5 linked regions of the Homo sapiens genome follow. The protein of the gene in region 5 purifies or fractionates together with the protein of the main gene of each other region. This does not show direct contact. Each region holds a gene or a part of one and is shown on either strand. Other genes may lie near its edges.

What was found.
Region 1: the proteins of PDYN (region 5) and GNPTG purify together in Homo sapiens (affinity purification with mass spectrometry, with the first as the bait; one large-scale study listed by BioGRID). This does not show direct contact.
Region 2: the proteins of PDYN (region 5) and HARS2 purify together in Homo sapiens (affinity purification with mass spectrometry; one large-scale study listed by BioGRID and IntAct). This does not show direct contact.
Region 3: the proteins of PDYN (region 5) and GNPTAB purify together in Homo sapiens (affinity purification with mass spectrometry, with the first as the bait; one large-scale study listed by BioGRID). This does not show direct contact.
Region 4: the proteins of PDYN (region 5) and TIMM8B purify together in Homo sapiens (affinity purification with mass spectrometry; 3 studies listed by BioGRID and IntAct, with this or other methods). This does not show direct contact.

What each region holds. Positions count from the first base shown.
Region 1 is NC_000016.10:1,357,991-1,361,930, forward strand, and holds part of GNPTG (N-acetylglucosamine-1-phosphotransferase subunit gamma precursor), read left to right. Parts: intron 1-3,752; coding exon 3,753-3,807; intron 3,808-3,881; coding exon 3,882-3,940. UniProt on the Homo sapiens protein: Non-catalytic subunit of the N-acetylglucosamine-1-phosphotransferase complex, an enzyme that catalyzes the formation of mannose 6-phosphate (M6P) markers on high mannose type oligosaccharides in the Golgi apparatus.
Region 2 is NC_000005.10:140,689,807-140,694,443, reverse strand, and holds the start of HARS2 (histidine--tRNA ligase, mitochondrial isoform 1 precursor), read right to left. Parts: upstream 2,990-4,637; 5' UTR 2,796-2,989; coding exon 2,688-2,795; intron 2,650-2,687; exon of another isoform or gene 2,427-2,649; intron 954-2,426; coding exon of another isoform or gene 936-953; exon of another isoform or gene 854-935; coding exon 779-853; intron 510-778; coding exon 390-509; intron 260-389; coding exon 164-259; intron 1-163. Other genes in the region: HARS1 (histidine--tRNA ligase, cytoplasmic), read left to right, coding at 3,140-3,229, 3,500-3,589. UniProt on the Homo sapiens protein: Mitochondrial aminoacyl-tRNA synthetase that catalyzes the ATP-dependent ligation of histidine to the 3'-end of its cognate tRNA, via the formation of an aminoacyl-adenylate intermediate (His-AMP).
Region 3 is NC_000012.12:101,761,423-101,765,362, reverse strand, and holds part of GNPTAB (N-acetylglucosamine-1-phosphotransferase subunits alpha/beta precursor), read left to right. Parts: intron 1-58; coding exon 59-1,161; intron 1,162-3,599; coding exon 3,600-3,799; intron 3,800-3,940. UniProt on the Homo sapiens protein: Catalyzes the formation of mannose 6-phosphate (M6P) markers on high mannose type oligosaccharides in the Golgi apparatus.
Region 4 is NC_000011.10:112,083,860-112,088,106, reverse strand, and holds TIMM8B (mitochondrial import inner membrane translocase subunit Tim8 B), read left to right. Parts: upstream 1-1,350; 5' UTR 1,351-1,383; coding exon 1,384-1,467; intron 1,468-1,796; exon of another isoform or gene 1,797-2,140; intron 2,141-2,644; coding exon 2,645-2,812; 3' UTR 2,813-3,307; downstream 3,308-4,247. Other genes in the region: SDHD (succinate dehydrogenase [ubiquinone] cytochrome b small subunit, mitochondrial isoform a precursor), read right to left, coding at 134-250, 1,148-1,199. UniProt on the Homo sapiens protein: Probable mitochondrial intermembrane chaperone that participates in the import and insertion of some multi-pass transmembrane proteins into the mitochondrial inner membrane.
Region 5 is NC_000020.11:1,987,446-1,991,385, reverse strand, and holds part of PDYN (proenkephalin-B preproprotein), read left to right. Parts: intron 1-3,940.

The sequences.
Region 1 (3,940 bases), on a different chromosome or scaffold from region 5:
TGGCCCGTGGCTGACAGTCTCGGTGGGCGCTGTGTTAAGGTGGCGTCCCCAGCCAGGTCCCGACTCCCCAGCTTAAAGAACAGGGTGGCTGCTGTGGCTTGACTCACGAGTTGCCACTGGCCTTGATGTGTACACGCCCTTGCTCTAGCACTGCCTGGGGCTGGCCTGGCTGGAGGGTAGGGACGCTGCACGCCTTCCCTCTTCCCCCAGGCGCTGGTGACACTGCCCTGCAACCGTCAGCACCATCATCTCCACAACTTGCTCTGTCCCCTTCAAACCCTGACTCCCAGCTGCCCCGCTCCCCCAGCCCCGGCACCCACCATTCTGCTGTCTCTGAACTTGGCTATTCATAGACGTCACATAGGTGACTCATAACTGTGTGCGACCTTTTGTGTCTGACCAACTCCTCTTGGCACAGTGTCCCCAAGGTCCCCCAGGCTGGAGGCTCTCAGTGCTTCCTTTTTATATGGCTGAGGACTGTTCCACTGCAAGGACAGACCACGTTGTTGTTTACCCGTCATCTGTCCATGGACACTGGAGTGGCTTCCACCCTCTGCCTGGGAATAGGCTGCTGTGAACTTGGGTGTAAATATTTGAGTCTCTGCTTCCAATTTCTGAGAGTAGCTTTGCTGGATCTTATTAGAATTCCATGTTTAGCTTTTTGAGGAACCACCAAACTGTTTGCATAGTGGCTGCACCGTTTCCCATTCCAGCCAGCATTGCACGAGGGGTCCAGTTTCTCCACATTTTCACCAACACTGTTTTTTGCTAACAGCCATCCTAGTGGGTGTGAAGCGGTACCTTAGGGTTGTTTTAATTTGCATTTCCCTAATGATCAGTCATGTGGGATCTTTTCAGTTGCTTATGGTGTTTGTCCTTTTTTTTTTTTGAGATGGAGTCTCACTCTGTGGCCCAGACTGGAGTACAGTGGCGCCATCTTGGCTCACTGCAAGCTCTGCCTCCCAGGCTCAGGCGATTCTCCTGCCTCAGCCTCTCAAGTAGCTGGGATTACAGGCGTGAGCCACCACACCTGGCTCATTTTTATTTAGTAGAGACGGGGTTTCACCATGTTGGCCAGGCTGGTCTCAAACTCCTGACCTCATGATCCGCCTGCCTCGGCCTCCCGAAGTGCTGGGATTCCCGGCTTCTCTGCCCATTTTTAACTTGAGTTTATTGTTGGGCTGTAGTTCTGTGTTCTGGATGTGAGTCTCTTACATACGTGGTTTGCCAGTGTTTATTTTCTCCCATTCTGTGGGTTGTCTTTTCACTCCCTTGATGGGTTTGTTTTTTTTTCCATATAGAGTCTAACTCTGTAGCCCAGGCTGGAGTGCAGTAGCACGATCTTGGCTCACGGCAACCTCTCCACCTCCCAGGCTCAAGGAATTCTCCTGCCTCAGCCTCCCGAGTAGCTGGGACTGCAGGCATCCGCCATCACGCCTGGCTAATTTTTTTGTACTTTATTAGAGATCAGGTTTCACCATGTTGGCCAGGATGGTCTCGATCTCCTGACTTCGTGATCCGTCTGCCTCGGCCTCCCAAAGCACTGGGATTACAGGCGTGAGACCCTGCGCCCGGCCTCTATGCCAGTCTTTATGCCAGTATCACACTGTTTTGATCATAACAGCTTTGAAGTAATTTTTGGAATCAGTATGTACGAGTCTCTCAACTCTGTCTTTAAGATTTGTTCGATGATTTGGGGTCCTCTGAGACTCCCTATGAACTTTAGGATGTGTTTTTCTATTTCTGCAAAAACTGTCATTGGGGTTTTGATGGGGTTGCATTGAATCTGCAGATCACTCTGGGTGGTATTGTCATCTTAAAAATATTGAATCCATCAGGCTGGGCGCTGGGGCTCACGCCTGTAATCCCAGTACTTTAGGAGGCTGAGGCAGGTGGATCACCTGAGGTCAGGAGTTTGAGACCATCCTGGCCAACATGGAGAAACCCCGTCTCTACAAAAATACAAAAATTAGCCAGCCGTGATGGCAGGCACCGGTAATCCTAGCTACTGGGGAGACTGAGGCGGGAAAATCGGTTGAACCCAGTGGTGGAGATTGTAGTGAGCCAAGATCGTGCCACTGCAATCCAGCCTGGCGACAATGCTAGACTCCGTCTCAAAAAAAAAAAAGTGGCGTATGGATGTCTCATGTCAGCTTTATGTAGTGGGTGGCACTGTTTGTGCGTGGATAATTGTGGTGTCTTGGCACATTGACCCTTTTATCAATGTATAACATCTTTGTCTCTTAAAATAGTTTCAGCCACTTCAGCTCTCTTTTGCCTGTTTATATGAATACTTTTCCATACCTTCACTTTCAACCTGTTTATGTCTTTAAATCTGAAGTTAGTCTTTCAGGCCGGGCATAGTGGCTCACACCTGTAATCCCAGCACTTGGGAGGCCAAGGTGGACGGATCACTTCAGGTCCACAGTTGCAGACCAGCCTGGCCAACACAGTGAAACCCCGCCTCTGCTGAAGATACAAAAATTAGCTGGGCGTGGTGGCGGGCACGTGGGATCCCAGCTACTCGGGAGGCTGAGGCAGGGGAATCACTTGAACCCAGGAGGCGGAGGTTGCAGTGAGCCGAGATCGCGCCACTGCATTTCACCTTGGGTGACAGAGTGAGACTGTCTCCAAAAGAAAAAAAAGAATCTAATGCCTGATGAGCTGAGGTGGAACAGTTTCATCCCCAAACCACCCATCCCCACCCCCGGCTGGTAGAAAAACTGCCTTCCATGAAACCAGTCCCTGGTGCCAAAAAGATTGGGGACCACTGGTTTAAGTCCTGTAGCTTTACAGACCATAGCTAGAAAGGCAACTGGTATTAATTCACCCTGCACGAGGACCTCCGTCTGCCTCCGCTGAGCTGCTGTCTGCTCACTTCCCCGGGTGGCACACCGGCCTGCATGTAACCAACTCCTGAAGCTTTTATCTGGGAATGTCCTCTTTTTTGGGGGGTGGGGAAGACAGGGTCTTGCTCTGTCACGCAGGCTGGAGTGCAGTGGTACGATCTCAGCTCACTGCACTCTCCACCTCCTGGGTTCAAGAGATTCTCCTGCCTCAGCCTCCTGAGTAGCTGGGATTACAGGTGCGCGCCACTACACTCAGCTCATTTTTTCTGTGTGCTTTTTGTGTAGACACGGGGTTCTCACAGTGTTGCCCAGGCTGGTGTCATACTCCTGGCCTCAAGCAATCTTCCCGCCTTGGCCTCCCAAAGTGCTGGGATTACAGGCATGAGCCACGATAGCAAGCCTTAACTCTAATTTTTGAAGGGCTATTTTTAGAATTCTCGGTTTTGTCAGTTTCTTCCATTGAATGGTACCTGTTTTCCTGTTTCTTTGAACGTCTTGTGCTTTTTGTTGAAAACTGGTCCTTGGCCGGGCGCGGTGGCTCAAACCTGTAATCCCAGCACTTTGGGAGGCCGAGGTGGGTGGATCACGAGGTCAGGAGATCGAGACCATCCTGGCTAACGCGGTGAAACCCCGTCTCTACTAAAAATACAAAAAATTAGCCGGGCATGGTGGCGGGCGCCTGTAGTCCCAGCTACTTGGGAGGCTGAGGCAGGAGAATGGCGTGAACATGGGAGGCGGAGCTTGAAGTGAGCCAAGATCATGCCACTGCACTCCAGCCTGGGTGACAGAGTGAGACTCCATCTCAAAAAAAAAGAAAACTGGTCCTTTGAAAACAGACTCTGCCAGTCTTTGCAGACAGGTTCTGTGCTTGGACCCTGGGGATCAGTGTGAGGTCTCTTCCAGGACCCGTGCATCTCTTCCGACTCTCGGGCAAGTGCTTCAGCCTGGTGGAGTCCACGTGAGTGCAGGGTGGGTGCGAGGGTGGGCTGGGGCGCAGCCTGCGGACCCCCCTCATGCCATCTGTGTCCCCAGGTACAAGTATGAGTTCTGCCCGTTCCACAACGTGACCCAGCACGAGCAGACCTTCCGCT
Region 2 (4,637 bases), on a different chromosome or scaffold from region 5:
AGGGCTCCAGGCCAGGCTTCCGTAGCAGAACTGCCTTCTGGGAGAAACTAGAAGTATAGGCAATGGACCTCTAAGATCCCAAAGTCACGTTCTCCACTTTTGTCAGAGAAAGCCCGCTGGATTTGGAAAGAGACAGGTCAGGCTCCAGTACTCAAAAGGATACAGTAAGGTCATAGCGGAGGGACAACAGCTCTCCACCTTGATCCTTCAGATCATACATGAGCCCAGAGTCCTCTCCATACTTCTCAGTCAGGGTTTCCTATAGGGGTCAAACAGAATGAGCCACAGTTGAAAGCATGACTCCAAAACACAGATGAGAAGCCCTTTGGGACACTGAACGCCATTGAAGAAGTGAGTGAGGTTGCACGTACTCTTTCTTCTCCCCTTACCTTCAGCTCAAATGCTGGGGTGTCCATCCCCTTTGCTCCATGACGTTTAAAGCAGCTGATAACCAAATCAAGAATTTTCTCCCTCACAACCATATGCTGAGGACTAAGATCCCTGGTACCCTGGAAACCAAAAGCAGCCATAGTGAAAACAAAAACAAAAAATAAGTCCATTTCAGACAAGGAGTTAAACTACACTTATTATGTAATCTCAGGTCTGGAGCTGAAATCTACTGAGTTCAAATGACTCTGAGCCGCACCTAGTATCTCAAGAATAGTATATATTTTTAAAATTTACTGTAAAGAACATTAAAAGGGGTCAGAGAGACATGCAAGGCAGAGGTCAGTCCTCCAAGGCACTCTAATGGGATAGGGTAGGCAAAAAGTATTACCTTTGGGGTCTTGATAATAAAATTTGGTTTCTCTTGATGTGCTTTCAGTTGGGATGTTAACACTGCCTCTGCAACCTGGCAGAAGAATGAATGTGAGATGTGGCTTCTCTGGACACTGGCCAGACCTGTGGCATCTCTGACCCTGTTGACCACCAACCTGCAAAGACTCTTCACCCTGAGCAACAGGAAGCCAAAGCACCATTTCATCTATCCCAATCTCAGTCCCACCCCAAAGAATCTATGTTGTATTTACAATTACACGTGTAATATATATGAGGTCAGGTCTTCACCACACAAGCTTCCTCACTGTATATGGATTTTTTTTTTTTTTTTTGAGACAGAGTCTCGGTCTGTTGCCCAGGCTGGAGTACAGTGGCACAATCACGGCTCACTGCAATCTCTGCCTCCTGGTTCAAGCAATTCTCCTGCCTTAGCCTCCCGAGTAGCTGGGACTACAGGCGCGCCACCACCACGCCCAGCTAATTTTTGTATTTTTAGTAGAGATGGGGTTTCACCATGTTGGCCAGGCTGCTCTTGAACTCCTGACCTCGTGATCCAACCGCTTCAGCCTCCCAAAGTGCTGGGATTACAGACATGAGCCACCGAGCTCAGCCGCATTTTTAATATTCTCAAATACTTTAAGAATCTGAGAATAATGAAGGCACTGAACAACCCACCACTACCAACACCAACCATTCAGGGGTAGGGATTATGGTGATCTTCTCCAGGTCACCGTTCCTACTGAAAGAGCAAAAATAATTTTTTTTTTTTTTTCAGATAGAGTCTTACTCTGTCGCCCAGGCTGGAGTGCAGTGGCACGATCTCAGCTCCTGCAACCTCCGCCTCCCGGGTTCAAGCGATTCTCCTGTCTCTGCCTCCCGAGTAGCTGGGATTACAGGCACATGCCACCACGCCCGGCTAATTTTTGTATTTTTAGTAGATACGGGGTTTCGCCATACAGGTCAGGCTGGTCTCAAACTCCTGACCTCAGGTGATCCACCCCCCTTGGCCTCCCAAAGTGATGGGATTACAGGCATGAGCCACTGTGCCCGGACAAAAAAATAATAATTTTTAATAAGGTAGCACTGGTTATCAGGTTTAGAGAGAGGAAAACTGTAACTTGAAGACAAGGGAACCAGCTCAAGGACACAGAACAAGCCTGTGGAATGATAAGATATGGATTTCTTGAATGAGCTAAAAAACTCAGACTGATAAGATGCTGTGATTGAATATCAATAAAAGATCTGTGCCCTATTGTTCACGATAGCACAAAGCATCTGCTAAGAGAGCATTAGAATCTTTCCGAAGTAAGGCAAAACTTAATCAGTGACATTACCAGCACGCTGTATGCCCTTCCAAAAATAGAGGATGTGGTGGTTCCATACTATGGCGATTATCTGCCCTAAGAGAAGTCCAAGTTCAAGTACACAATCCCTTATCTGCAATTCCAAAATCCAAAACTCTCTGACATCTGAAAATGTTTTTCTGAGATTCATTTTGAGGTAAATTCTAAGATGAACTCAGTCTACTTCTGATCTTTAGTCATCTCATTTACTAGGAATATTCATATATTTCGCTTAAAAATGTTACTGTTTGAGTCCAAGAGTTTCAGGAAAAAGTGTGGATATGAATTAAAATACTCCCTTACTACATATCCGTGTATAAGTCATTCATTTAATCTTGCAGCCTCCGTTTCCTCAACTGCAGAATGGAAATCAAAACTCCAACCTCTCAAGATTGCTCCAAGGATTAAATGACCAGGCATCCAAATCGCTTAGTTCAGTGTCAGTACATAGTGGGCACTCGATAAAAACCGATTGTAACACTACTGGAATACAGGCCGCGAGGCTATGCGTTCAGATCTGGAGACCCTGCTGGGACAGACCAGAGATAATTCTGTCTCGCTCACCTGGCTTTGGCAACGGACCGCCCCGGTGCACGAAGCGCAGGGCGGTCGCAGGAGCTGGCTGAGCAGCGAAGCCCAGGCCCTCCTGGGAAGAAGTCCGAGCAGGGGCATCGCGCGGCAGGACGCCGGCTTTCCGGGACAGGAACAAAAGGCCTGGGAAGGAGGCGGGTCAGACACCAGGAAGGGTGGAGGGCACTGCAAAGGCGGAACCCGCGCACCAGGGAAAACTCGGGCGTTTGCGCACCTCACTAGTCACGAAGGCTGAGGTGGGATCCTCCCAAGTTCCCTTAGTAGCCAGCTTCGGCACTTCCGGGAGGAGCCGGAAATAATTTTTGTGCTCGGCGGAGGCTCTCTAGGCGTGCGACCCAGCGACTCGATAGCCGGAAGTCATCCTTGCTGAGGCTGGGGCAACCACCGCAGGTCGAGACAGCAGGCGGCTCAAGTGGACAGCCGGGATGGCAGAGCGTGCGGCGCTGGAGGAGCTGGTGAAACTTCAGGGAGAGCGCGTGCGAGGCCTCAAGCAGCAGAAGGCCAGCGCCGAGCTGGTGAGATTTAGGCAGCAGGGGAGAGGGCCAAGGCAAAGCCTGGGAGGACGTAAAGCCAGGGTGTTCGGGACATAGGGTAGAGATGTGAGGGAAGCGACCAGTCTTGTAGGGAGGAGAGTGGGCTGCGTGGGGAGACATCCGGGGTGGGTCCCGAGAGAAACAAAGCTAGGCCTGAGCAGAGAGATGTGATGAGGGAGGAATATTGAATGAATGGCGGGGGAGGGAGGAGAGTGACAGATGGATAGCTCAGCGCCTTCTTTCCCTCCACAGATCGAGGAGGAGGTGGCGAAACTCCTGAAACTGAAGGCACAGCTGGGTCCTGATGAAAGCAAACAGAAATTTGTGCTCAAAACCCCCAAGGTAATATCATTCCTGTAGGGAGCCACTGAGAAAGTCTCTAACTCTACTCACGGGGCGCTTATGTCTGCCTCCCTAAACCAGGTCATTGAGGAGGATCTGAAATGCTGCAGAGGAGAGGACAGTCGCTCTGGGCGCTGGGCTGGACTGGACTCTACCTGAGTCATTCTGGGATGGCAAAGTGATGGCAGAAACTAGGCCAGCTGGGTGATCAGGGGAGTCAGCCTGCTGCTGCTACTCCTTCGTTCATTCAATAAATGTGTATTTAGCGCTATGTCTCTAGCACTATACAAAGCACTGAATATATACCATGGTGGACAATATAGCCTACCCTCATGGAGCTTACATTCTACTGAAGGAGAGAGACTTAGAACAAATAATCCCACACAGATTTTTTTGTTTTTTTTTTAAACAGAGTATCCTCTGTTGCACAGGCTGGAGTGCAGTGGCACATCTTGGCTCACTGCAGCCGCTGCCTCCTGGGTTCAAGCGATTCTCCTGCTTCAGCCTCCTGAGTAGCTGGGACTACAGGTGCCCACCACCATGCCCAGCTAATTTTTGTATTTTTAGTAGAGACGGGGTTTCACCATATTGGCCAGGATGGTCTTGAACTTCTGACCTCAAGTGATCTGCCCGCCTCAGTCTCCCAAAGTGCTGGGATTACAGACGTGTGCCACCGCACCCGGCCACCACATGTGGTTATGTAATTACATATTGTGAAAAATGATATAAAGAAATTAAGGTTGCTCTGAGAAAAATAAGGGAGAACTGGGGAGTCTGAGAAAGGCTAACTGAGGAAGTGATATACTAACTGATCTAATGAATGAGTAGGAGATAGCCAGAGGACAAGTGTGACAAAGATAGGTCCAGGTAGAGTATGGAAACCCTAAAGTGGGAAAGAACTTTGGTAGTTTTGAGGAACTAGAGGATGATCTACATGGCTAGAACTAAGTTAAGGAGAGTAGAGTGGAATGAGGTTGGAGATTCTGAGCTCATCCTCCAGTTCAGTTCCACTTTCTGTAAGTTCTATAAACAGAACTGTTTACCCCTT
Region 3 (3,940 bases), on a different chromosome or scaffold from region 5:
AAAACAGAGGAAAAATGCCCAGTTAAAAAAAAAATCATGTTTCTGTTTTTTCCTCTAGATCATTTTCATGAATTGTATAAAGTGATCCTTCTCCCAAACCAGACTCACTATATTATTCCAAAAGGTGAATGCCTGCCTTATTTCAGCTTTGCAGAAGTAGCCAAAAGAGGAGTTGAAGGTGCCTATAGTGACAATCCAATAATTCGACATGCTTCTATTGCCAACAAGTGGAAAACCATCCACCTCATAATGCACAGTGGAATGAATGCCACCACAATACATTTTAATCTCACGTTTCAAAATACAAACGATGAAGAGTTCAAAATGCAGATAACAGTGGAGGTGGACACAAGGGAGGGACCAAAACTGAATTCTACAGCCCAGAAGGGTTACGAAAATTTAGTTAGTCCCATAACACTTCTTCCAGAGGCGGAAATCCTTTTTGAGGATATTCCCAAAGAAAAACGCTTCCCGAAGTTTAAGAGACATGATGTTAACTCAACAAGGAGAGCCCAGGAAGAGGTGAAAATTCCCCTGGTAAATATTTCACTCCTTCCAAAAGACGCCCAGTTGAGTCTCAATACCTTGGATTTGCAACTGGAACATGGAGACATCACTTTGAAAGGATACAATTTGTCCAAGTCAGCCTTGCTGAGATCATTTCTGATGAACTCACAGCATGCTAAAATAAAAAATCAAGCTATAATAACAGATGAAACAAATGACAGTTTGGTGGCTCCACAGGAAAAACAGGTTCATAAAAGCATCTTGCCAAACAGCTTAGGAGTGTCTGAAAGATTGCAGAGGTTGACTTTTCCTGCAGTGAGTGTAAAAGTGAATGGTCATGACCAGGGTCAGAATCCACCCCTGGACTTGGAGACCACAGCAAGATTTAGAGTGGAAACTCACACCCAAAAAACCATAGGCGGAAATGTGACAAAAGAAAAGCCCCCATCTCTGATTGTTCCACTGGAAAGCCAGATGACAAAAGAAAAGAAAATCACAGGGAAAGAAAAAGAGAACAGTAGAATGGAGGAAAATGCTGAAAATCACATAGGCGTTACTGAAGTGTTACTTGGAAGAAAGCTGCAGCATTACACAGATAGTTACTTGGGCTTTTTGCCATGGGAGAAAAAAAAGTATTTCCAAGATCTTCTCGACGTAAGTAACATCCAGCCTCATTCTTTCTCATGCTCAGGAAGAGTAAATAATCTCATGATAATATCATTATAGCTACCATTTATTCAGCACTTCCCTGTGCCGGCCATGGAACTAAATGCTTTTCTTACATGGTTTCATTTAATTTACCCAATAACCCTAATAATAAAAAATGTCATATGAAGGTATTTATTATTGCTGTCCCCATTTTGTAGTTTAGGAAACAGCCCAAGTGTGAATGAGTAAGGGATTTAGCCAGGGGCGTACTTGGAGGAAGGAGAGTGGGAAGTGGCATGTTGTCTTGTCTTGACATTTCAGATATGGTATTTTTCCAGCTTTACTGATGAAAAACCCTGAAGTTCAATTAAGTTCATTCGCTTCCCCAACATTATAACAGCAAATCAGTGTGAGCCAAGCCTCAAAGTTGGACTGCTCGTTGCCCTGTACCATGGCTTCACTGTGCTGTGGTGTCATCTGTACCTCTCCTCAGTGCTCTCACGGTGCTAACCACTGGGGAATGCAAGATGACGGGAACATAGCCACTGCTCATGTGGAAACTCAGGGACCAGTAGAGAAGACAAATTTGTGGGGAGAAAACTGTAGCAAAGAGATGTGTCTGTGTTGAGATATGGGCAAGAAGTTCAGAGGGAGGACTCCTTAGCTCTGCCTAGAAGTACTAGGGAAGGCATACAGAAGGAAGTGCCCTGTGGACTGACCTTCGAAGGGGTGGGAGTTGACAGACCAAAAAAAAAAATCATACAGTCTGGGCTGAATAGTGAAGGCACACAGCCACGAGTGGGTGTTAGGCTGGGAGAAAAGAGAGTGAAGGAGGAACTATGTCCTCAGCATTTTAGGAAGTATCTTGTGCCTTGCACATGAGGCATTTACAGATTGTCTAGTGAAGGACTGCAGTGTTCTTGACTATGTTTATTTCCTCAGTTTCCCCCATTTTCTTTCCTTTCCTTTCTTTTTTTTTTTTTTTTGAGATGGAGTTTCGCTCTTTTTCCCAAGCTGGAGTGCAATGGCGTGATCTCGGCTCACTGCAGTCTTTGCCTCCCAGGTTCAAGAGATTCTCCTGTCTCAGCCTCCTGAGTGGCTGGGATTACAGGCATGTGCCAGCATGCCTGGCCAATTTTTTGTATTTTTAGTGGAGACGGGGTTTCACCATGTTAGCCAGGCTGGTCTCGAACTCCTGACTTAAGGTGATCCGCCCGCCTCGGCCTCCCAAAGTGCTGGGATTACAGGCGTGAGCCACTGTGCCTGGCCTCTGGCCTCTTTCCTTTTTTTTTTTTTTTTTTTTTAAATTTACAAAAGCATTATAGGCTAGTAGTAAAAATTGCAAACAATTCAAAAATATACAGTAAATAAAGGAAAGTTCTTCCTTCTTCAGTCTCCTTCCCGGAGATAATTGCTGTTAATAGTTTGATGGGTATTCTTCCAGTATTTTTCTATAGCTATGCAAACATACCTATATGTATGTATAGTTATATATAGAGAAATATATGTATAGTGTAAATTTACATATATTTCCCTGCAGTTGCCTTTTGATGTAGTAGGATGTGGGCAAATGCCATTATTTATTTATTTATTTATACCCATGCCAGTGCCATTATTCTTTTTAATGGCTGCAGGTTAGTTATTTCCAATGTTTTGTGATTACAAATAGTGTTGCAGTGAATTCTCTTGTACATATATCTTACATTTCAGTGAGTTTTAGTTCTGCAGGTAGAATTACTAGCTTAGCAGGTATAAACTTTAAATATGTCTTTCTGAAATGTTGCACCACTTCATATTTCCACAAACAGTATACAACAGTGCTTGTTTCACTGCAGTCTAACCAACACCAGTTAATATCAGTCTCCTTACATTTTTATTTTTATCAGTTTGAGAAGCAAAAATATTTCTGTAAAGTGTTTGAATGCTTTGCCAATTTTCTTTGCCTATTTAGTTCTGCCACTGACTGGTTTTGATTTTATAATATTAAAACTATTATAAGATGAAACCAAATTTGTTTCTAGTCCTTGCGCTTAAAACTCAAGGACTTGCACATTTGATATCACCTGCAGAAATAGCTTGATATTGAAAGTACTATCAAATGTATATGTACATAAATTTTCTAAATGTTGCATTGAATTAGCTTTGACATCTCACAGTCAGTGACCAGTCCTTGAAGAATACCCTCCATATGTGACTGTTGTTATGTAGATCTCCATCGTACAGCTGTTGTTCTCAAACCAACATTGGTGATACTTGCACTGAAATCCAGTTGAGTCCTGCTAAGTCCAGTTTAGATCCTTAAAGTGACCCGTTAACATGTATTTCATTTGCTCCTAATGAAGAGTTCGTGACTAGTTATTACCACATTATATAAAATGTCTTGTAACAAAGTACACTTGTGCACTAAACATAATGCTGAGTTACATGTAGAATTCTCTTTTCAGGAAGAAGAGTCATTGAAGACACAATTGGCATACTTCACTGATAGCAAAAATACTGGGAGGCAACTAAAAGATACATTTGCAGATTCCCTCAGATATGTAAATAAAATTCTAAATAGCAAGTTTGGATTCACATCGCGGAAAGTCCCTGCTCACATGCCTCACATGATTGACCGGATTGTTATGCAAGAACTGCAAGATATGTAAGTCTTGCTCGTGTTTGAGTTGTTTGCTTGTGTTCAGAACTAAGGCTACTTGAAATGTGCATATTTACCATGCTAAATTTATAGCTCTAATATTTGATGACTAATATGTTAAAGGTATTATCTAAGTGAGAAAGAAAA
Region 4 (4,247 bases), on a different chromosome or scaffold from region 5:
AACTAGGTCTTCATTTGACAAAGTTGGACACAAGAGTCCCCCCTACAGGTAGGAAGTCCTGCTAAAGGCATGACCATTAGTGAAGGTAAAGATGGCTAGAGCCCAGAAAGCAGCAGCGATGGAGAGAACATACAATGGTGGCTCGGTGACAAGTGTATGTGCTGCACTCCACACCATTCTGGGATAGGTCGGTCCTGAAGAAATGCTGAGATATGAGCAGGTCTGACCACTGGAGTTCGAAGCAACAGAGCTGAGGAAAGAGTCATTAGGATGATCATAAGAACCTCTCCTTTAACAGGACTGACAAACTTTCTAAATGACCATAGGTAAGCTACTTAACAATAAATAGGGGATAACATCTTATTTGTAAAATGAAGATAGCATCTATTTCACTGGGGTTACTGTGAAGTTAAGACCAGGGAACATCTGCATGTTCCCTACTTTATTTAATGACACCTCAGGCATTCTTTAACCTAACTCAGTAATCTGGAAATCATGAGAGACTTTTCCCCTAAATTCAATCGCCAAATCCTATTGGCGTATCTCTTTAACAGTTCTTGAGACAATCTTCTTTTCTTTGTGCTACTTTCCTAGTTCAGGACCTCATCTTGCCCGGACTACTATGACAGTGTTTTCCTCATCAGAATGAAAGCTCGTTGAGGGCGGGAACTACGTTTTCTTCACATTTGTATCCTAGCATTACTACAGTACCTGAGGTAACACAAATGCCCAGGTTAAATGATTTTCGAACTGATCCCCCCTCCACTCCCACATCCAAACACACCAACTCCAGAAGAAATGGGCAAGCTCCTAACCCTCTTTCCCGACTCAGGGTGGGAGCGAGTGGGGAGCATTCTAGGGACAGTGAACGGGGAGAAAACAGAACTGCTATGTGGATTAGCCTCATCAGGACTGCGACTTCCAGAGGGAGCTCTCTTTCTGATTATTCCCTCAACTCGTCAGCTCACAGCAAGTGAAATATACCTTCGGGTAAACATCTGGACCCCTAGACTACAGTGGTCATTGCTGTGATTTCGGTATTTTCTTCTCCTCAAGAGATCTCCCACCCGGCAGATGAGTCCTCACTTCCATCCCCTTCCCTGGCTGGAGGCTACGCTAAGCACCTCAGGGTGGGAAGACCCCTCACCTCGGCCTCCTAGGGCACCGCAAACGGCACTCAGCCTCCAGAGAACCGCCATCTCGTTCCTGAGGGCTCAAGGTCATCCACCAACCCGGAACCACTTAGGCGACAATTCCCACCCACGACGACGAAAGAAAACAGGGAAGAGGAAATGCTGGGTGAACCGGAAGTCGAGAGGCGGTGCACACCCGTCGCGCATGCGCAAACACAGCTGTCGGAAGGTGGCGAGCCTGAGGCGAACAATGGCGGAGCTGGGCGAAGCCGATGAAGCGGAGTTGCAGCGCCTGGTGGCCGCCGAGCAGCAGAAGGCGCAGTTTACTGCACAGGTGCGGGGACGGGGAGGGTGAAGGGAAAGGAAGTTTCACCTTCCTTGGTGGTCCTGGGCACGCTCGGAGGTCTGTACACTGGCGGCTCACTGGTGCTCGATCCCGGCTGCATCCCATTCCCCTCACGAAAGACAAAGTTATGGCTCTCCTGTCCCTGGTGACCGGTAGTGCTCAGGTGCCAGGTATATAAGCGTAGCGTGGAGAAAAGAAAAGGTGTAAAACAGGGAAGATTTGGGCGACGCAAGGGTACGGGAGACTAGTTAGCCGGCGACATGACTGGGCTGGCATTCGAAAGATCTGGGTTCTCATCCTCCCTCTGCTCCTTGCAGGCCACGTGCCCGTAGAAAAGATACTCATCCACTGTGGGTTTTGGTGTCGCCGTCACCCCACTGCCTCACTGGATTGTGAGGATCATATGCGACAATGTATTTGAAAACGACTAGAACATTATCGGAGGAAGGTGGACTCTGAAGTAGTCGCTGTAGACTATGGATGTAGAACAAGGGTTTGGAGCCCTTCGGACATGGTTCTAACGCGGCCTGACTTCTTGCTGGCTACATGACCTTGGACTACATAATCACGCCTCTTAAATGGGAGGTGATGACAGCTATCCTTGAGGACCTTAGAGAGAACTGATTTCTTAGTACCCAGCCTCACAAATAGTAAGCTCTTGGTAAAATGGTTTTTTCCTTTTGGGTGGGAGGAAGAGGGTGCTCGGATGACCAGCAAGAACCCTGGCTAGAAATCTTTGGGCCCTGAACATTCTAATGACAGTGCACATAATTTCTGTGCCTGTATGTGCATTTTTCTGGGGAGTGGATCCATAACCCCCAAAAGGTTAATGGAAGAATTACCTTGTCTAGGGGATAGGTTTGGAATAAAATGAGTGCAATAGTTTGGGAAAATTAATTGGTTCCCTAGTTGGTTCACAATGGTGCTAGCTACTTTGGGGAATATAAAAGGTTATTAGTCCTACCTGAGAATGTACAATCTGTAGGGACGAGGATCTGGATCAATATTGGTGACTAATTAGGAAATGAAGAAAGAGAAGAGCCCAAAGTGACTCCGTGGTTGATTTAAAGAATGGTTTTGTCAGGTGTCAAAAAGTGAGAAGTTAATAAACAAGAGTTAGGCCTATCTGCAGACCCCAATGGTTACTATTTTTCTTTCCTTTTAGGTGCATCACTTCATGGAGTTATGTTGGGATAAATGTGTGGAGAAGCCAGGGAATCGCCTAGACTCTCGCACTGAAAATTGTCTCTCCAGCTGTGTAGACCGCTTCATTGACACCACTCTTGCCATCACCAGTCGGTTTGCCCAGATTGTACAGAAAGGAGGGCAGTAGGCCATCCCCCAGGAGAATGACAGAAGCAAAGGACTTGTTACTAAGCAGATTTAAGGGTCAGTGGGGGAAGGCTATCAACCCATTGTCAGATCAGCATCAGGCTGTTATCAAGTCTGTTGGTGCTAAAAAGTAAAAGATGAAATGTTCAAAGAGTGAAATTTATTTATTTGGAATTCAGAAATTCCAGGTTGTATGACATCAGTTACTCAATAAGTGTGAATTCTCCAACTCTTCTTTTAATCCCATTTTAGAATTTAATATAGAGATCTCTGATTGGCAGGAACACTAGAAATAAATGTTCCATGGCCAGTAGTGCAAATGGGGGATTGTAGGTTTTGAAAAACCACCCTAAGCCATATTAAGGGGGTTGGAAGAACCATCGAAGCCTAAGGCATAGAAGAAAATTTGGGGTTAAGAAAGATGAAGAACAAAAAACAGCTTTATTGCTTATACATGACCAAGAAAAGGAAAACATGGCAAAAAAAAAAAAAAAAAGGCAAGATGTGTATTCCTTGCGAAAGAACAAGCCTGCTAACTTGGGAGGAAGGGAAGGTCAGGACCCAAATAGAGCCAATTTCCTGGAGATGGCCTGTTCTACTGGCACATTTTCCTGAGTCTGTGCTTAAAACCTTTCAGGTACTTTCAGGGCACAGAAACAATGCATGCTAAAAAATATATGGCCAAAGCTCCTTCCAACAAAGATTTAACTTGCTCCAGGAACAAAATAATTGCTTTAGGTTAAGAGGTAGTAATTAGAGACTATTCTTCTCCCTTTAGACCCCCACTAATCCCAAAAATAAAAATACACACCATGGAACACTGACAATTGAGTACCAAAGTATTAAAATTTAAAATAAATATCCCAAAAGGTAGCACCTGCTCATAGTTAAGGGATAGGGCACCTCTGTCCAACCATGTATTTTAAGACCAAGCACTTTATTAGAAATCTGTCCCGTAAAGAGAACAAATTTAGCAGTTAGAACTAAAAATACCAACTCATGGAATGTCATCATAGTTGTATCTACTGCTGGTGTCTTATACTGTCATGCTACTGTGAAGTAATTCCGTATTACACATCAGGAAAGTAAGGCCAGGAAGGTGAACTTACCTGCTCTGGGCCTCCTCATAACCAATGAGTGGCAGAACCAAGACCGAAAGTCTGAGTTTTCAAGCTTTTTACTCAGCCCATTAAGTGACAACCAGGAAAAAATAATACGTCACTTGATCTTTCTTCCCACAGTGAAAAAATGCACTTGCGTTCTGCCAGCCTTCTTTCAGTGATATGTTGGTTTCTTAAGAATTAACATACTAAGGATCACAGTATAGCAAAGGGAATTAATGTGGTCTCTGCTTGGTGCTTTAATCCAAAGGCAGACTGGGAAGAAGTGGATATGTCCCTGAGAAGCCTGTTTCATTTTGGAAATAATTCAACTTA
Region 5 (3,940 bases):
GGGGCTCCTCCGAGTCCATCCAGGTCATCCCACTGGCCAGAGCGGCTGGCCACAAGCCGCAGACATATGCACCGAGGCAATTTGTTGATGCATTGGCTTGAACTGCCATTTGGTCCCTGTCCTATTCCTGGACGATTTGATTTAACTTGACAGCGGTTTACTGAGCAGTTATTATGTGGCAGGGTCTCTTGCCCACTGGTCCCTAGGAACAAAGGGCAGACTCAGAGAGCAGCAGGAGGGAGAGAATTGGTGTTTGTGATTCACACGGTATGTCAGCATCCTGAATCAAAATCTACTCTCCCTCCCCACTTCTCTCTCTCTTATTGTGTTCACTTCCCTTCCCTTTTTTCCCTCTTCTTCCCCTCCTCCTCACCCCCTTCCCTTCTATTCCCATTTGTCCTCTCCCCATCTCTATGTCTCATCTTATTTTTTCTTCCCATATGGTCCTCCACCTCTCTCTGCTTTTTCTCGGTGTCTCGGTCTCTTTTTCTGTGTGTGCAGTTCTCACCTCTGCCATTCTTTTGGGCCCCTGTCTTTTTCTCTGTGTCTATATCTCTAACTCTCTCTTTTTACATCTCTCTCTCTATGTCTCTTCATCTCCATATCTCTCTAGCTTATCCTCTTTTTGCCTTTCTCCCCATCCCTTAATTGCACCAGATAACAAAAAGGGTGGCGGTTCCATCCAAACCTTGCTCTTGAAAAACGTTCTTTTAAATATGCAGTGAATGATCCCACCAGGACCACTGCCTGCAAGGCCGTCTTTCCCTCTGGTCTCTGCACAGCAAATGCAGCCGACCACCAAACGGGACCCTCATCCGATTCTGTGCTTTGATCTTTGCCAGGCTAAAGTGTGGGTTTACTTTCTGTTCAGAACCCGAGCCTCCTTCCCATTGATCATTCGTCTTTCGTTACGATGCTAACACCTAACAAGGGGCACCGCTTTTCCAGGTTCAGGGGCTCCCTTTGCCAACCACCTGGAGACCCACAAGGGTGAACTTTACACTTTCGAGTGTGGGGCAAAAGCTTCTGAAATGGTTTCAACGTCAGGAATGTGAGAGTTTGGGAGGTTATCCGAAAGACACTCGATACATATTTAGGCCTCAGGATGGTTTGTGGCGTGGTCAGCAGACTGACTCTGAAATCTTATTCTGCTGTTTCCTTGCTTCTTGGTCTTGGCCCAGTCTTTTAGACTCTGAGCCTCTGTTTTCCCCATCTGGAAATGGAACTAATAGTTCCCAACCCACTGGATTCTCTTCAAGAGAAGAGAGAAATAATTGAGATAAAGTGGACAGCAAAGAGCTTGTCCCTTCTCATAGCTACACCCTAAATGAGGAATGCGATGGACTTAGAGAATTCCAACTCTGCCATGCTCTGTGACCACGGAGAGGCACTTTGTCACTTGATCCTCACCTTCCCATCTGGATCCCAAGCTGTAATATTAGCCCCTGCCCCGTAGGGTCCACGGGAGGCACCTGGAGTGCACGGGGCTGGTGCAGAACAGCGTCTCAGTCCTTGCTGGCTGTTAGGATGGTTGTCATTGCAGGGTCATTGAAACAATGGCATCTCTTTAGTGGGAGTCACGGTTCAGGTGTGGGAGGCTGGAGTTCTGTCTCCATTTCCCTCGTGACTCATGATATGACCTTAAACAAGTGACTTCATTTCTACCTTTTCCCATTTCCTCTTTCATCAAATAGGGGTAATCATATGCGCTAAAGTGCTCAGAGAGATAATTGCAATGTTAAATCAAGCCATTATTATTCCATGCTGGCTTTTTAAATAAAAACGCTTGCGGCTCCTCTGAGCCCTCAGCTGACTACAATATAGAAATATCATCGAGAAGCCAAGACGTCAAAAAGATCATTCCCTTTCAAGGAACTCTGGGCCCTGGGTGAAAAGAGGGTCTACCTTGTGCTGGCCCTTTAAGCAGTGCTGTCTCAGTGCAGGAAGATGATACACCCCAATCACAGATGAGAAGACTGAGGCTTGTGGAGGAGGTGGCACCAAATGACCGCAGAGCCCATGCCTTTCCCTCTCAAGGAAAAGGTAAATCCCAAGGCAAGCCTCCCCAGGTCCTCTCAGTATTTGCCAGGAGAGCAGTCCAGGCAACTAGAAAGGGCTCAGGGCTGAAGAATGGGGCCAGTTGCTTCCTGCCTCTTCCATCAGGAAACCCACCTGACCTCCTGGCAAGAGATCCATCCACTAGCAAGGCATAAAAAATGTTTTATTATTTAAGAATATGTTCAAGTGCCTGAGGACTCAAGAAAATTAGCTTAAAAACTATTAGAATCATAAAATGTTTATAAAACCAGTCAAAGTACGGTCAGCAAACCTTGTCTGTAAAGGACCAGAGAGTAAATATTTTGGGCTTTCTTGGCCCTACAGTCTCTGTTTCAGCAATTAACTCAGCTTTTGCAGCATGAAAACAACCACAGACATAGATGCAAACAAAGGGGCATGGGTGTCGTATTAGCCAAGGTTCTCCAGGGAGGCAGAGCCAACAAGGTGTGCCTATCCGCAGAAAGAGATTGACGTAAGGAATTGGCTCATGTGATTAGGCAGGCTGGTGAGTCTGAAACAACCCCACCTGTTAGGGGAGAATCACCCCACTGCCCCATCAGCCCCTCTTTCCCCTACTGGGCTATTACAAAGCACCCGAGGTAGCAGCTGAGAAAAAGCTTCACAAACTGCCAAGTGCAAAGGACTTTTCCTTGTGTGGCCTCCGGGTCCTTGGCCAAGTCTGTGAAAGAAGACCATGCAGGCCCTCCATCAGGGTCAGATACTGACATCATGCCTCCCGCTTACCAAGGGGGCTTGCTTCCCACTTCTCATCCCGATGATCGGCAAAGTTCCTTTCCTCCTTGGCCCATCCCTAATCAGACATGATAGGCAGGCAGGGCTCTCTCTTATGTGTGACTTCCCAGCTCCATTCCTTGGCAAATCCCCATCAGAAAGGTCGAAATGCTTCCCCTGGGGCCCATCTGACATTGTTCAGTAATGTATTTATCCTATAAAAGGAAGGAAATAGGATCACCTATGAAATTGTGAGGGCCAATGTGTCTCTACTAGGGTCCCCTTTTAACCCGGAGGGATCTGGACAGGAGCCCAACTCCCCCATTCATAACTCCAGGTGAACTTGGATGAGCAAGTTCCCCTTTCTCAGCCTCAGTCTGGCCCTCTGTAAAATGGATATTAAAAGAAAAACATGCACCTCTGGGGCTGCTGTGAGGATTGGAGCTAATATGTACAAAGCAGTAATGCACAGCCTGGCACCCAGTAGGCTCCTGAGAATCGGTGGCTGTTGCTGGGTTGACAGGATCATGGATGAAGGGCATTCAGCCCAGACCAACACCCAGCAGGCCCTCCGTCCACGGCAGTGAGTCATGCAGCAGCATTTTTTGTTTCTGCAGTGTGCCAAGCTCTTTATGATCTCTCCTTTTTGCCCTCTTCTTTTCCTATCCCCTACAGCTCAAGTAAGACTAGACTGGAGTCTTCATACTCCCCTCTCCAAAGCACCTACTATGTGCCAGGTGCTTCAAGCACAAGCTAGGTGCTTCAAATGTGATCATTTATTTAGTTCCTATGTCCACCCTCTGAAGCATTATTATTAGCCCCATTTTGTAGCTGAGAAAACTGAGGCACAGTAAAGCTAAGTCATTTTCCTAAAGTGGTGGTAAGTGGTGGGCTGAGACCTGAGCCCACTTTACTGACCACTTGGTGATCCTGCTTCGGGGTCAGGAAAGAATTTGAGGTCCTACCTCTCCTTTCTCAACAGCTGTGTCCCTTCCACCCCATGCTGCTTCTCCGAGTTAGAGTGGGTAATTCAGGGGCTGCAGACTCACTTGTCTGTCAGGCAGTCGGCAGTGAGGGAAGCCCCAGGTGGTTCCGCGGGTGGCGATGGGCAGTATGGCTCTTCCTCTGTGACTGTTGCCATATTGGAATA